2 linked regions of the Homo sapiens genome follow. The protein of the gene in region 1 purifies or fractionates together with the protein of each later gene. This does not show direct contact. Each region holds a gene or a part of one and is shown in the gene's direction. Other genes may lie near its edges.

Region 1 (7,071 bases):
CAATGCCTTGGGGAATGTCTTCGTCAGTGAGGTAAGAAAGGGCGGGCGCCAGGGTGGGCTGGGGATGGGCTGGCACTATCTAACTGGGTGTCCTCTGTAGCTGCTGGAAACTCTGGCCCAGCTGCGGGAGGACCGGCAAGTGCGTGTCCTGCTCTTCAGAAGTGGAGTGAAGGGCGTGTTCTGTGCAGGTAGGTTCTCTCTCCTGCCCCCATCTGTGCTCTGCAGGGTGCCCACCAGCCTCCAGGGGTTGGGGGAAACCTTAGATCAGCTTCAGCATGGGACTCATTGTTGCCATTTTACCGATGTGAATGCAGAGACTCAGGGAGGAAAATTCCCTTGCCTAGGATCACATAGCTAGTAAGGGGTAGGATAGACTTTAGTTTGAACTTGGCCTCTCTAACCCTTAGATCTTAGTTATTTCGGCTATGCCATGCTTTGTTCTGACCCTTCACGGGGGAAATAAGAAAATGGAGTCCAAGACGGGTACAGTGGCTCACATCTGTAATTCCAGCACTTTGGGAGGCTGGGGCGGGTAGATCACTTGAGGCCCGAGTTCGAGACCAGCCTGGCCAACATGGTGAAACCCCTTCTCTACTAAAAAATACAAAAATTAGCTGGGTATGGTGGCAGGCACCTGTAGTCCCAGCTACTCAGGAGGCTGAGGCAGGAGAATTGCTTGAACCCGGGAGGCGGAGGTTGCAGTGAGCTGAGATTGCAGCTCTAGAATTCCTGGGCTAGTTCCTGCCCCTCTCGGAGCTTCAGTTTCCGCATCTCTCACAGAAGGGCTGGAACTGATCAAAGATTTCCAAAGGCTCTCCCAGCTCTGACTTCCTGTAGTCTAGGACTGGAAGAGTCTATTTACTCTCTACTCCTGCTCACCCCTGCATCTGGCCTTTGAGGACCCCACCACGGTCACTCTTCCCGCCAAGGCGCTTGCCCACCTGCATGCCACCGTATCTTGTGCTCACTTCCGTTCTCGTTTACTTGACCTTTGACCTCTCAGCCTTCTTGGACCTTGCTGACTCTGCCTGTAAAAATTAGTCAAGTTTTAATTTTCTTATTACTTACATATTTTAGAAATTGTGGGCTGGGTGCAGTGGCTCACGCCTGTAATCCCAGCACTTTGGGAGGCCGAGGTGTGTGGATCACCTGAGGTCAGGAGTTCGAGACCATCCTGACCAATATGGTGAAACCGCGTCTCTACTAAAAATACAAAAATTAGCCAGGCATTGTGGCCAGTGCCTGTAATCCCAGCTACTCAGGAGGCTGAGACAGGAGAATTGCTTGAACCCGGGAGGTGGAGGTTACAGTGAGCTGAGATCACGCCACTGCACTCCAGCCTGGGTGACAGAGCACAACTCCATCTCAAAAAAAAAAAAAAAAAAAAAAAAAAAAAAAAAACGAAATTGTGGTGAAATATAAGTAACACAAAATTTACCGTTTTAACCATTTTTAAGTGTACAATTCAGAGTGGCATTAAGTACATTCACAATATTGTGCAATGTCACCGCTATCCATTCCCAGAACTTCTTTATCATACCAAACAAACTCAGCCTGTTCAGACAGTGACTCCCATTCCCCCTTCCCCTCCAGCCTGGGTAACCTCTATGGTACTTTGTCTCTATGTATTTATCTATTCTAAATACCTCATACCAGTAGAATCATATCATATTTGTTTTTTGGTGCCTGGCTTATTTTACTTAACATGTCCTCAAGGTTCCTCCAAGTTGTGGCAAGTGTCAGAACTCCATTCCTTTTTATGGAGTAACATTCTATTGTAATGAGTAGCATTCTATTGTATATATACCACATTTTGTTTACCCAATCATCTGTTGATAGATACTTGGGTTGTTTTCACTTTTGGCCACTGTGAAGAATGTCCCCAAATACATTGGTGTACAAGTACCGTCAGCCCTCTGCATCTGCAGGTTCCGCACCCACAGACTCAACCAACCGCAGATTGAAAATGTTAACAACAAAAATAACAATGCAACAACAAAAAATAATATAGATAAAAACAACACAGTACAACAGTTTACATAGTATTTACATTGTATTAGGTATTGTAAGTAATCTAGAGACAATTTAGAGCAAGCTTGTCCATTGTCCAACCCTCGGCCTCTGGGCCGCATGTGGCCCAGGATGGCTTTGAATGTGGCCCAACACAAATTTGTAAACTTTCTTAAGACATTATAAGATTTTTTTGTGTGGTGTTTTTTTTTTTTTTTTTAAGCTCATCAGTTACCGTTGGTGTTAGTGTATTTTATGTGTAGCCCAAGACGATTCTTCCAGTGTGGCCCAGGAAAGCCAAAAGATTGGAACCCCTGGCTTAGAGTATACAGGAGGATATATGAGCATAGGTCATATTGCAAATACTACAATATTTTATACAAGGGGCTTGAGCATCCATGGATTTTTGTATCTGAGGGGTCCTGGAACCAGTCCCCTACGGATAAGGAGGGACTGTATCTGTTTGAGTCCTTGCTTTCAACTCTTTTGGGTATATACTTGGGACTAGAATTGTATGGTAATTCTGTTTAACTTTTTGGAACTGGTTTCCACAGCAGCTGCATGGGTTTACACTCCCACCAGCAATGCACCAGGGTTCCATGTCTCCACATCCATGCCAACTTTTTGTTTTGTTTGTTTTAAAAGCCATTCTAATAGACGTGAGGTAGTATCTCATTGTGGTTTTTGATTTGCATTTGTCTAATGACGATGAGATTGAGCAACTTTTCAAGTGCTTATTGACCATCTGTGTATCTCCTCAGGAGAAATGTCTATTCAAGTCCTTTTTCCTTTTTTTTTTTTTTTTTTTTTTTTTGAGACTCTGTCACCCAGGATGGAGCGCAGTGGCACAATCTTGGCTCACTGTAACCTCTGCCTCCTGGGCTCACGCGATTCTCCTGCCTCAGCCTCAACCTCCCTAGTAGCTGGGATTACAGGTGCCCACCAACACACCTGGCTAATTCTTGTATTTTTAGTAGAGACACTGTTTCACCACGTTGGCCAGGCTGGTCTTGAACTCGTGACCTCAGGTGATGTGCCCACCTCGGCCTCCCAAAGTGCTGGGATTACAGGTGTGAGCCACTGCGCCTGGCCCTTTGCCCATTTCTGAATTGGGTTGTTTTGTTGTTTAGTTGGAGAAGTTCTTTATATATCCTAGATATTAAACCTTTATCAGATATATGATTTACACATATTTTCTTCCATTCTGTGTGTTGTCTTTTCTTTTTTTTCTTTTTTCTTCTTTGAAACGGAGTCTTGCTCGTCACCGAGGCTGGAGTGCAGTTGGTGCGATCTCAGCTCACTGCAGCCTTCACCTCCTGGGTTCAGGTGATTCTCCTGCCTCCGCCACCTGAGTAGCTGGGATTATAGGTGTCCGCCACCACACCTGGCTGATTTTTGTATTTTTAGTGGAGACAGGGTTTCACCATGTTGGTCTTGAACTACTGACCTCAGGTGATGCACCTGCCTCGGCCTCCCAAAATGCTGAGATTGCAAGCGTGAGCCACTGCACCCAGCCATTTCTGTGGGTTGTCTTTGTATTCTATTGATAGTGTCCTCTGATGCACAGAAGGTTTCCATTTTGATGGAGTCCAGTTCACCTTTCTGCAGTGTCACACCCTCCTTGTTTGATGCTCCTCTTTTCCCTTGACTTCCTTGCCCGGGTTCCTGGTGTTTCTCCTTCCTCGCTGGCTGCCTGTCCTCAGGTCTTCTTTGCTGGATCCTTTAACCGCCTGGGATTCCGTAAAGTGCCATTTTCCTAAGGGCTGGTACCAACCCTCGCCATCTGCAGGTGCAGACCTGAAGGAGCGGGAACAGATGAGTGAAGCAGAGGTGGGGGTGTTTGTCCAGCGACTCCGGGGCCTGATGAATGACATCGGTGAGGATCTGGGTGTGGGGTGGAGGAGGGGGTTTGGGGGTCCCTGCCGATGACAGTCCCGCTACCCCCACCAGCATCTAAGGAGAGTCTTCTTTCTGTTTGGAGTTCTGTGATAAGACAGATGACTCACCCAGGGGGATGGAGGAGGATGACCGAGGGCAGTTCTCTCAGAGAGGGAGTTCTGGCTCTTCAGCTTTTGTGTCCCGCCCCACCCTCAGGGTTCAAGCCTGGCCATTCCAAAGCAGTTAAGTTTCCCCAAGCATGCTTTCAAGTTTTGACAATTGCTGTTACCTTTGCCTGAGATACCCCTTCTTGGTTACTTGAACTTTTACTTGTCCTTCAAGCCCTCCAGTACCTCCTCCTCCAGGAAGCCTTCCCAACCCACCCTCTGAGCTTTTTATTGGAGCACTGATGATCCTGGGTCAATAATGCCTGATACACATTTGTCTTCCCCATGAGACTGAGCCCCATGGGAACAAAGGCTATGTCTGATTCATTCTGTGTTCCCAGTTCCCAGCACCCAGCACAGGGCTTGGCACAAAGAAAGGGAGGCCCCAGGGAGGCCAGCGGATTAGGCCTGAACAGGGATCATCCAGCCCATCCTCCCATTCCTCTTCCCTGGCTGATTCTGTAACTTTCCCTAAAGGGAAAATTGGCTTCTGAGATAACCTGGCTGCGGGAAGCAGAGGTTGTCGTGAGCAGAGATTGTGCCATTGCACTCCAGCCTGGGCAACAACAGCGAGACTCCATCTCAAAAAAAAAAAAAAAGAAAAAAGGAAAAAAAAGAGGCCGGGCGCAGTGGCTCATTCCTGTAATCCCAGCAGTTTGGGAGGCTGAGGCGGGCGGATCACGAGGTCAGGAGTTCAAGACCAGTCTGGCCAACATGGTGAAACCCCCGTCTCTACTTAAAAAAAAAAAAAAAAAAATACAAAAAAATTAGCTGGGCGTGGTGGCGCACATCTGTAATCCCAGCTACTCAGGAGGTTGAGGCAAGAGAATCACTTGAACCTGGGAGGCAGAGGTTGCAGTGAGCCAAGATCATGCCACTGCACTCCAGCCTGGGTGACAGAACAAGACTCCGTCTCAAAAAAAAAAAAAAAAAAGAATTAAGATAACCTGGCTGAGGTTCCATGTAATGTCCCCAGACCTGGGTCCACTGAGGCCTCTGTCCCAACCAGCTTGCCCCTCCCCAGCCTTGAGTCTCTGTCCTGGTCCCACCAGGGCTTTGCAGGCTGAGCCTTTCTTCCTCTCCACAGCAGCCTTCCCTGCACCCACCATTGCGGCTATGGATGGGTTTGCCTTGGGCGGAGGCCTAGAGCTTGCCCTGGCCTGTGACCTCCGAGTGGCAGGTACTGGGCCAGGACTGGGGGCAGGGGGTGGGGCTAGGGAGTCAGGGGTGAGTGAAACAGGGTGAGTCTGGACATTCTGCAGTCAGCCACTGTTCTTGGCTTCCAACCAAAAGCAAAACTAAGGCAAGGCAGAGCACAGAGGGTGCTCAGGCAGAAGCTGCTTCCCCTCCTGGTGCAGCCATTAGCTGCTGTAGTATCTGTGACCTGTCAGAACCTGCTTCCTTCATTTTGGGAATATTTGACCAACCTCAGAGCAATTGCTGTTACGAGCCAAGGAGGTCAAAGAGCAATGTCCAGTCTTCCCATTCTGTCCAAGTCAGATTTATCGACCATGTTTCGGAAAAAGGTGAGCCTCAGGGATAGTTTGTCAATGGCTGAGCTAATCACAAAGGTGCCTGGGCAGGAATACTGGCACCAGCCAAATTTGCATTACTTGTTCTGAGCAATTGAGCTTTGTTTGAAGAATGGGAGGGGATAAAGAAGATAACTGATCATTTTCTCAGGTGACTGACCTGGTGATTAGGAGCAGCCTTCTTGGATGCAGTTAGGCAAAGTCTGAATGTCTTCCCTTCTCCCCCCACCGCTCTCTCCTGCCACCCCAGGAGCAACATATAAAAATGTGTAGCTCCAGGCATGAAAGTAGCTTCTGTCTACACAATGCAGGTCAAAGAGAAGGAACTGACCAGGTGTCCAGGCACCAAAATACCAGGCTGGTCTAGCCCCAACTCTCCTTCTCACATGCCCACGTTCACGCAACTAACTCACAGGGTTTTGGGGAAGACTAAGACGGAGTGAATGTAAAACCCACTCCCTTCTGCCCACGTTCACATGGTCCATGCTGAGGGAATTCAGAAAAGGAGACAGACCCGGGGGGGTGCGTCAGTCAAGGCAAGTTTCTCGAAGGAAGGAAGCAGAACTCAGGAGGACATGGACTGGAACAGTCAGGGCAATTTCAGGCTGTGACAAAGCTGGAACGGACGACTGTAGCAGGAGCAGGAGTCACTGACATTCTAGGCCAGGCCAGGGCTAAGCCAGAGAACCTATTAATAGTAATCCACAAATAGATATGGGGCACCTCCTAGGAACTCTCCTTGTTCCAAGCGTCGTACCTCGTGTGATCCTTAGCGGCTCTCTGAAGCAGACAGAAGAGGGCCAGCCATCTTTCTTCCACCTTTGAGGCTTGGGAAGGGTGAGACTTGCTGGTGACTTACAACTCCATCAAAGGGGCATGGTGAAATAAGGGCCTGGGCTCCTGACTTCTGGGCTAGGGCTCTTCCAAAGGCAGAGTCTGGAGAGGCCTGGCTGTGGCCAGACCATGGGGCAAGTGGCTAGAGGGGCGAGTAGACAGCAGAGGCAGCTGTGGCCCCCGGGATTAGCACTGGGGGACCGGATGGGGGAGGGAGGCCTCACTTTGTTCTATCTGAGCAGCTTCCTCGGCAGTCATGGGACTGATTGAGACCACGCGAGGGCTCCTCCCGGGGGCAGGTAATCGCAACTACAGCACCCGCCCAATTCCACCCCATCCAGGGTCCTTCGCTGCTTTCCTTTTTTGCCCTCTGTTCTGGGCTCTGCCCTCCCACCTGAACCCTGCTCCTCTGAGAAGTCTTGGCTGAGTCCCAGGCTGAGCCTTCTCTGGGTTCCCACTTCCCATGCTGATTCCCACCCTGCTCCCTCCATCCTGGTAGGAGGGACTCAGAGGCTGCCCCGTTGTCTGGGGGTGGCCCTGGCGAAGGAGCTCATCTTCACGGGCCGACGACTGAGTGGAACTGAGGCCCACGTACTGGGGCTGGTGAATCACGCTGTGGCCCAGAACGAGGAGGGGGACGCCGCCTACCA
Region 2 (7,704 bases), on another chromosome or scaffold:
TGCAAGACATCGGGGGGAGCCACGAGAAGTGCAGAGAGAAGAGAGGGTGCGAGGAGGAGCTGTGGAAACTCACATAAAAGGCTCCTGGGATGAGGAGAACGAGAGACAAGGCCAAAGAGAAACAGAGGGCCCTTCAGAGAGTGTTGCCAACAGAGAGTCTTTCCTGGTGCCTCCTCTGGCCAACAAAGTTTATTAGCACTGCTGTGGGAACCCAGGCAGACCTACCATTTAGTAAGGAGATGCAAAAACTAACAAGAAGGCAGTGGGACAGAGCTGGACTTAGGGCAAAATAAGGACTGTTTGATACACTACAATGAAAACAGACAAACCAACCAACCACAGACAAAAATCCCGTTCCTCAGTAGGCTCCACGGGTGAACGAACTCTCTTCATGCAGAAATTCTACCCAGGGAAGCTTCTAGCCCTTCGAGGGGTGGGGAAGCAAGTGCTGCCAGTAACAAGCACCAGATATAGGAAATGGCCCTCAGAGATGCACATTGATGCTGCAGGAACCAAAGCTCCCAGAGCTGGAGAGAGACAGCTGAGCCCAGCCACCATATCTTCCACCAGACGCGGATTGCTTAGGATGGCAGCTAGATGACCTGGAGATGGCAAGGCATTCTGAGGCTGGAAGGGTGTGCAGGGACCAGATCATGCAGCACCTCCGTTGCAGTCTGCAGAGGTTTGACAATGGAAAGCCTGATGGCAATGGGGAGCCATGGAAGAGTTTCGAGAAGGGGAGAGACAAGGTTAAATCTGGGGCTAGTGTGGGAGGATTCAGGAATGAAGGGATTAGAGGTTGGGGTGAGAGAGTCCAGGCAAGAAACGGCCGGCGCAGTGGCTCACATCTGTAATCCTGGGACTTTGGGAGGCCGAGGTAGGCAGATCACTTGAGGTCAGGAGTTCAAGACCAGCCTGGCTAACACAGTGAAACTGTGTCTCTACTAAAAATAAAAAAATTAGTTGGGCATGGTGGTAGACACCTGTAATCCCAGCTACTCCGGAGGCTGAAGCACGAGAATTGCTTGAAGCTGGAAGGCGAAGATTGCAATGAGCTGAGATCATGCCACTGCACTCCAGCTGTGGTGACAGAGTGAGACTCCATCTCAAAAAAAATAAATAAATAAATGAATAATTTAAAAAAAAGGATGAGCTGAGCCAAGGCAGGGCCACAAGGATGAAGGGAATGGTCTGAGAAACTTTCAAGAAGCAAAACTGGCAAGTTTCACTGAACAATGGGGAGCAGTGGGTGAGAAAAAGAGTCAGCGAAGTGATTCAGGATCCTCACCTAGAGGCTGAAGCATGCCAGTGCCACCACCAGGGGCTAACTGTGCAGGTCCGAGTCTCGGGATGCAGTGGAGATATGCAGGAAAGTGGGGAGGCATCAGGGCAGAGACGGAAGTTGCGGGAGTGGCAGGAGTGGATGAGCTCACCTGGGGAGTTTGCAGAGAAATGACAGCGCTGTGGAGTACAAGGCTCCTGGCAAGTTGATTGACATGGTTTGGCCAGAAAGAGGACCAGGGAGGGTAGATTTTGTGGTCAGGGCAAAGAGACTCAGAAGTAGGTAGAGCCCAGGTTAGACCTTTATTTGTCAATAAAGAGGCCACTGGTGTTGATCGGGAGACTGTGTTAGGGGAGACAGGAAAGAAACCAGACAGCAGAGGGCTGGGAGTGAGAGGGCTTCTCATGGCTGACCTCACCTCTTTTCCCATCTATCTCTGGAGCCCCAAATATCCCACTCTTATCCTGGTCCCACAGAGGAGAATGGGGAAACTCTATACACCCCGATTCAGCATGCACTCCCACATTGTTGCAGGACAGAGGCTGCCTCTGAGGAGGAGAACTAGACAGTGGGTGGGTGGGGGGAGACGACAGGGAGACTTCACTGTAGAGTCTATGCACTGTTTCCATTTTATAGCATTTAAGTGCATAACCTGATTAGATAACATAAATTGCATTCAAACAAAAGGCACCCTGTGCTTTCTTGCCACAAGATCTTTCTTTGCTCAGGCGATTTCTTCTGTATTAAAAGGCCATTTCGACCCTCAAATTCTCAACCTCCTTTGCCACACTTCACACCTCTTCCAGGAGCAAGCACAGCTTGGAGACTAAGGAGACAGGCTTTGAGCAAGGAGCTACAAACCAGAGACCACCAGCCAAATCGGGCCTGCTGCCTGTTTTTACATGGCCCACAAGCTACAAATGATTTTACATCTTTAAATGGTGTAAAATCTTCAAAATTCTTCAAAAGAAGAATATTTCCTGACACATGCAAATTACATGAAATTCAAATGTCAGTGTCCATCAATAAAGTTTTATTGGTATACAGCCACCCTCACTTGCTTATCTTATATCAATGGCTGCTTTCAACATACAACAGCAGAGTTGCCACAAAGACCCTGTGGCCCACAAAGCCTAAAATATTGGCTACCTGGCCCTTTACAGGAAAGGTTTGCAACCCCTGCTGTAGAGTCAGGCAGTCCAGGGAAGTGACATCACTGAGCTTCAAGATCCTCACCTAAGTAGAATTACAAGGCTGGGCATGCTGACTCACACCTGTAATCCCAGCACTTTGGGATCACTTGAGGTCAGGAGTTTGAGACCAGCCTGGCCACTATGGTGAAACACCGTCTCTACTGAAAATACTAACATTAGCCAGGTGTGGTAGCGCACCTGTAATTCCAGCTACCCAGCAGGCTGAAGCAGGAGAATCACTTGAATCCAGAAGGTGGAGGTTGCAGTGAGCCGAGATCGCGCCACTGCACTCCAGCCTGGGTGACATAGTGAGACTCCATCTCAAAAAAAAAAAAAAAAAAAGAAGAAGAAGAATTACAGTTGTACCCAACTCATATGTAACATATAATCTTAATGTTATGAGAATTGAGATGAGAATAATAACCACTTGTTGAGCACATACTATGTGCCAGAAGCTGTTCTAAATTCTTTAGAGGTGTTGTTAATTCAATTTGACTTCGCATAAATCCTATGAGGCAGGCTATTATTGCCCCCCTTTCACAGATGAACAAACTGAGATGATGCATGGCACATAGCAGCCTTTGTTGAATTTTTTTTTTTTCTGACACCCTGGCTGGCAGTGATTGAAATTGAGCTTTCAAGGCTCTTAACACTTCCATGTCAAGCTTTATCACTCCATATTGACTAAGTCCCTGTCTCCCCCACCAGGAGGACAGGGTGGTGGTGTAAGGGGTGGGGGATGCTCAGAGGACAGTAACCAAGTCTGATTCATTTGTGTCACCTAAACCTAGCCCAGGGGCAGCCTGGCACAAGGAGACCTCAGGAAATAAATTCAACAAATGAACCAACGCACACAGATGAACAGAACTGGCCCATGATAAGGCTTAAGAGTGACCTCACGGAGCTCATTTAATATGAAAGGAAGGCATCATGGTTTCCTGTTATGGGGGAAAAAAATGGGCTACAGGGTGCATGGGGTTCCTTCTCACGTCATCACCGGCCGTAGACCTACACATCCTGGGGCTCTCTGCACATCTCCACATCTCAGTCTAAGGCTCTGGTGGTCCCTTAATCTAGAGGATTTTTTTTTTTTTTTTGAGACAGAGTCTCACTCTGTGGCCAGGCTGGAGTGCAGTGGCGCGATCTCGGCTCACTGCAACCTCTGCCTTCTGGGTTCAAGCCATTCTCCTGCCTCAGCCTCCCGAGTAGCTGGGACTACAGGCGCGCACCACTACGCCCAGCTAATTTTTGTATTTTTAGTAGAGATGAGGTTTCACCATGTTGGCCAGGATGGTCTCCATCTTTTGACCTCGTGATCCACCCGCCTCGGCCTCCCAAAGTGCTGGGATTACAGGTGTAAGCCACCGCGCCGTCTAGAGGAATTTTGAGCCTCAGTTTTTTCGAGGACCTAGGTTTGGGGACCTGGATCTCAAGGGTCTCAGATATCTGAGTCCTTAAACTCCTTGTGCCCCGGTATTTGAGTCACCGGGGTCTTCAAGACCCTTGGGCCTTGTGGGGAGGGTGGAGGCCTCCAGATCCCTGTGTCTAGGGTGCAGACGGTTGTCTCCAGGTCTACTGGTTCTCTCAGGTGCTTTGGTGCCAGGGGTCTGCGTTTTTAACCCCCTTAGTCTCAAGGGTCTGAGTCTCTGAGCCTCTGGGCTCCTGGGTTAGGTGAGAAGGGTCTTTGGATCCTTCTGTTTAGAGTCTGGGTCTCCAGCACGCGCATCACGACAGCCCCCGCGTGCGCGCGGAGTTCCACTCCAATCCTCGAAGTCTGCTCTACGCATGCGCTATCTGCGCCTTTTACACTAGCGACCAACCCCTGCAGTTCCACCTTCAATTCCCACCCGCAACCCCGCCTCAAAGGGCAGAAATCATAGGCCCTGTAATCCCCTTAAAATCCTATAATAATCCCACAAAATCAGTTAATCAGAATACAACTACTTCGCCCATCCAGCAACCTGCCGGGTGACAGCGCGCTGCCATGACAACAGTACACGCAGCTCCGCCGCTCCCTGCGGCCGCGCGCAGGCGCAGAAAGTAAACGCGGGGGGAGGGGGAGCAGTGTATTTTGGGAGCGGCAGAAAGAGCAATGCAAGTGTTTCTGGGAGTTGTAGGCCAAGCGGGACCCCGGAGCCGTAGGCGCATCCAGCGGAAGTGTCGCATGGGCTTCTGGGAGTTCTAGGCAAGAAAGCCCCAAGACCTTATGGGAGTGGTAGTCTCGGAGTCACTTCCGGGCCAGGCTTCCGCGTGGTGGGCAGTGTGGGCATCCCAGCACTGAGTTCTGCCCGGGTGAGTATTTCCTCCTGCGGTGGGTCGGCATGTGGACTCCGGCTCTTTGTTGCGGTGCCGTGGGAGGGTTGAGGGTCTCTTCGAGCGTAAGGCCTCTGTGATTTCCCAGCGCCCGTGTCCCTGAGGCCTTGTAGCCAGGATTCCCACTTTGAACGCTGCGGTCCGGCCTGTCTCTTACCGGGCCACTCCCTTCCCCAAGACAGGATAAGACCATCTGCTTGCCCCCGCCCCTATGTTACTATCTGCCTGTCCCCGCCCCCATGCCACACATTATCTGTCCTTTTGACAAGGCTGCAATCCAGAGGCATCCCTGGGGTCCGCGGCCTCTCTTCTGGGAGCACTTATTATTCCCTCATCCTACAGATACTTACTGAGCACCGACTCTGCGCAGGGCGGCGGGAGCGAGGGCACCAGACCAACCCTGTCCCTGCCTTGAAGCAGAGAGACAGACCTGTCACCAGTGACAGCTAGTCAGGATCAGGGCAGCTCTGAGGGCCCTGGTGGAGGCGCTCGACTCAGTGACGAGGGTCCATAAAGTCTTTGAGGGAAGACGCTTAACATGCATGTCAAACCTGACGTGGCCAAATGGAATTCCTGGTCTTCTCACCTCACAAAATGGCCCCACCGTCCCTCCAATGCTCAGGCCAGAACCTCAAAGTTACCCTTCATCACTTTCTCTCGTCGTTGCCCCAGTCCCCACTCCAATCAGTCTTATACAAGTCCTGTGGGCTCCACCTTCAAAATAGATCCAAAATTTCACTTCTTCCCACCTCTACTGCCAGCACTCCTGTCTAGTGTGCTGACCTCCAGCCTTCTGTCCTTGTCCCTGACAACCAACAGTCCTCCCCACACAGCAGCCAAACGAATCCCACTTTTTTTATTTGAGACAAGGTCTCACTCTATCACCCACGCTGGAGTGCACTGGTGCGATCATGGCTCACTGCAGCCTTGACCTCCTGGGCTCAAGTGATCCTCCTGCCTTGGCTTCCTGAGTAGCTGGTACTACAGGCCTGTGCCACCAGGTGCAGCTAATTTATTTATTTATTTTTTTAGAGATGGGGTCTCGCTATGTTGACCAGTCTAGGAATCCTTTTAAAACATGCCAGATCATACCACTTTACTGTTCAAAAACCTCCCAAGGCTCCCATCTCCTCCTGAATAAACCTAAAATTCCACATCATGGCCTATGAGGCTCTGCTAACTTGTGCAGCCTTGTCCCCTGCGAGCGTCTCCCTTCCTCAGGACGTGGACCCCCCAGGACTGGGTGACTGTAGATTTAGGGGGTGAGGAGAGATGAGTCCAGGGTGACGTTACGTCCTGTCCTGCAGATGGGCTGGATGAAAGGTGGTGGCTGCTCTCAGAAGAGAGGGAACAGATGGGCAAGAACAGGTTTCTGCCTTTCGAGGAAGAAATAGGTTGTCTGGGCGCTTAGGGTCTGAACATCTTTAAGGTGCCCCAGCCATGTGGAGGACCAGCCAGGAGGGACATCTGAATATCATGATTCAGAGGCGCTCATAAGAATGGAAAGAAGCTGGGCACAGTGGCTTACGCCTGTAATCCCAGCACTTTGGGAGGCCGAGGCGGGCGGATCACTTGAGGTCAGGAGTTCAAGACCAGCCTGGCCAACATGGTGAAACCGCATCTCTACTAAAAATACAAAAAAAAAAAAAAAAATTAGCCAGGCATGGTGGTACACGCCTGTAGTCCCAGTTACTCGGGTGGCTAAGGCAGGAGAAACGCTTGACCCTGGGAGGCAGAGGTTACAGTGAGCCGAGATTGTGCCACTGCATTCCACCTGGGTAACAGAGCCAGACTCCATCTCAAAAAATTAAATTAAATTAAATTAAAAATCTTTAAAAAATGGAAAGAGATGGGTGCTAGGCAGGACCTGAGGACATGAAGAGGCGTCCCCAAAAGAGAATTGAGCAGGAAATCCAGGAGCACAGAAGGAGTGAGTCAAAAGTCGGGGGAAGAAAGATTCCAAGAGTTGCTGCTCACCTGTGACAGATGTTCCCGACGGTCACTGCAGATGAGTCCTAAGGGCTGCTTCTTGGGCTCAGTGGCAGGAAGAGTACTCAGGGCAGAGGGGAGAGCCAGTGCAAACATCTGGAGCAGGAGTATTCCTCAGGTGTCAGAGTAAACGACATCAAGGCTGAAGGAGAGGAGGTTGGAGAAACAAGGAGCCACACATGTAGGGCCTCATCGGCCATTAGCAGTTATTATACTAAAGTGAGATGGGATCCAGGGGAGGATGCTGAGAAGATTCAGGGCATGATCCCACTGGCTGTTATGTGAAGGAGTGTTTGTAGAGGAGGCAAGGCGGGAGCAGGAGACCTGTGGGGAGCCCCATGCAGCCGTCCAGGAGAGAGACAGACCAGACTAGGGTGCTGCCGTGGAGACGGTCCTAAGTGTTTGGCTGTTTTGAAACTACATTCAAACAGGATTTGCTAAATTTCATTTAGGTACCTGGAGTTTGAAAAGGTCCGGACTTGGCATTGCAGTTTGGTGCCACCCACTGGGAGCATGACAAGTGCAGTGAGAGAAAGAGCAGTCCAGGGTCCTGGACCCCAAAGCTCCTGGCCTGAGCAGCTAGAAGGATGGAGCTGCCCTGTACTCCAGGAGAAGCACGCTGGGTTAGAAGAATCAGGAATTTGGGTTTTGAGATGCCTATTAGACATCTGAGTGGTACTGGTCTCTGCCCTCATAGAAGTTAGAGATGGTAAATATATAGTCACATAAAATAATTCCACACATTGTGGTAAATCCTAGAAGCAGCGTGACCTGCTCTGAATGGCAAGGAGGTGACTACAGTAGTCCAGGCTGGAGGTGATGGTGGCTTGGGGAGGAGAACTGAGCCTGGGGAGTTTTTATGGGTTCACCAGGCAGGCAGGACCAGGATTTGACTGGAGGGTTGGAGTCTAGGCTGGGTGGGGAAGA

What was found. The genes of interacting proteins can lie anywhere in the genome.
Region 2: the proteins of ECHDC2 (region 1) and CTU1 purify together in Homo sapiens (affinity purification with mass spectrometry; 3 studies listed by BioGRID and IntAct, with this or other methods). This does not show direct contact.

What each region holds. Positions count from the first base shown.
Region 1 is NC_000001.11:52,904,683-52,911,753, reverse strand, and holds part of ECHDC2 (enoyl-CoA hydratase domain-containing protein 2, mitochondrial), read left to right. Parts: coding exon 1-31; intron 32-100; coding exon 101-188; intron 189-3,799; coding exon 3,800-3,886; intron 3,887-5,142; coding exon 5,143-5,235; intron 5,236-6,317; coding exon of another isoform or gene 6,318-6,412; exon of another isoform or gene 6,413-6,663; coding exon 6,664-6,720; intron 6,721-6,920; coding exon 6,921-7,071.
Region 2 is NC_000019.10:51,105,410-51,113,113, reverse strand, and holds the start of CTU1 (cytoplasmic tRNA 2-thiolation protein 1), read left to right. Parts: upstream 1-4,704; 5' UTR 4,705-4,767; intron 4,768-7,704.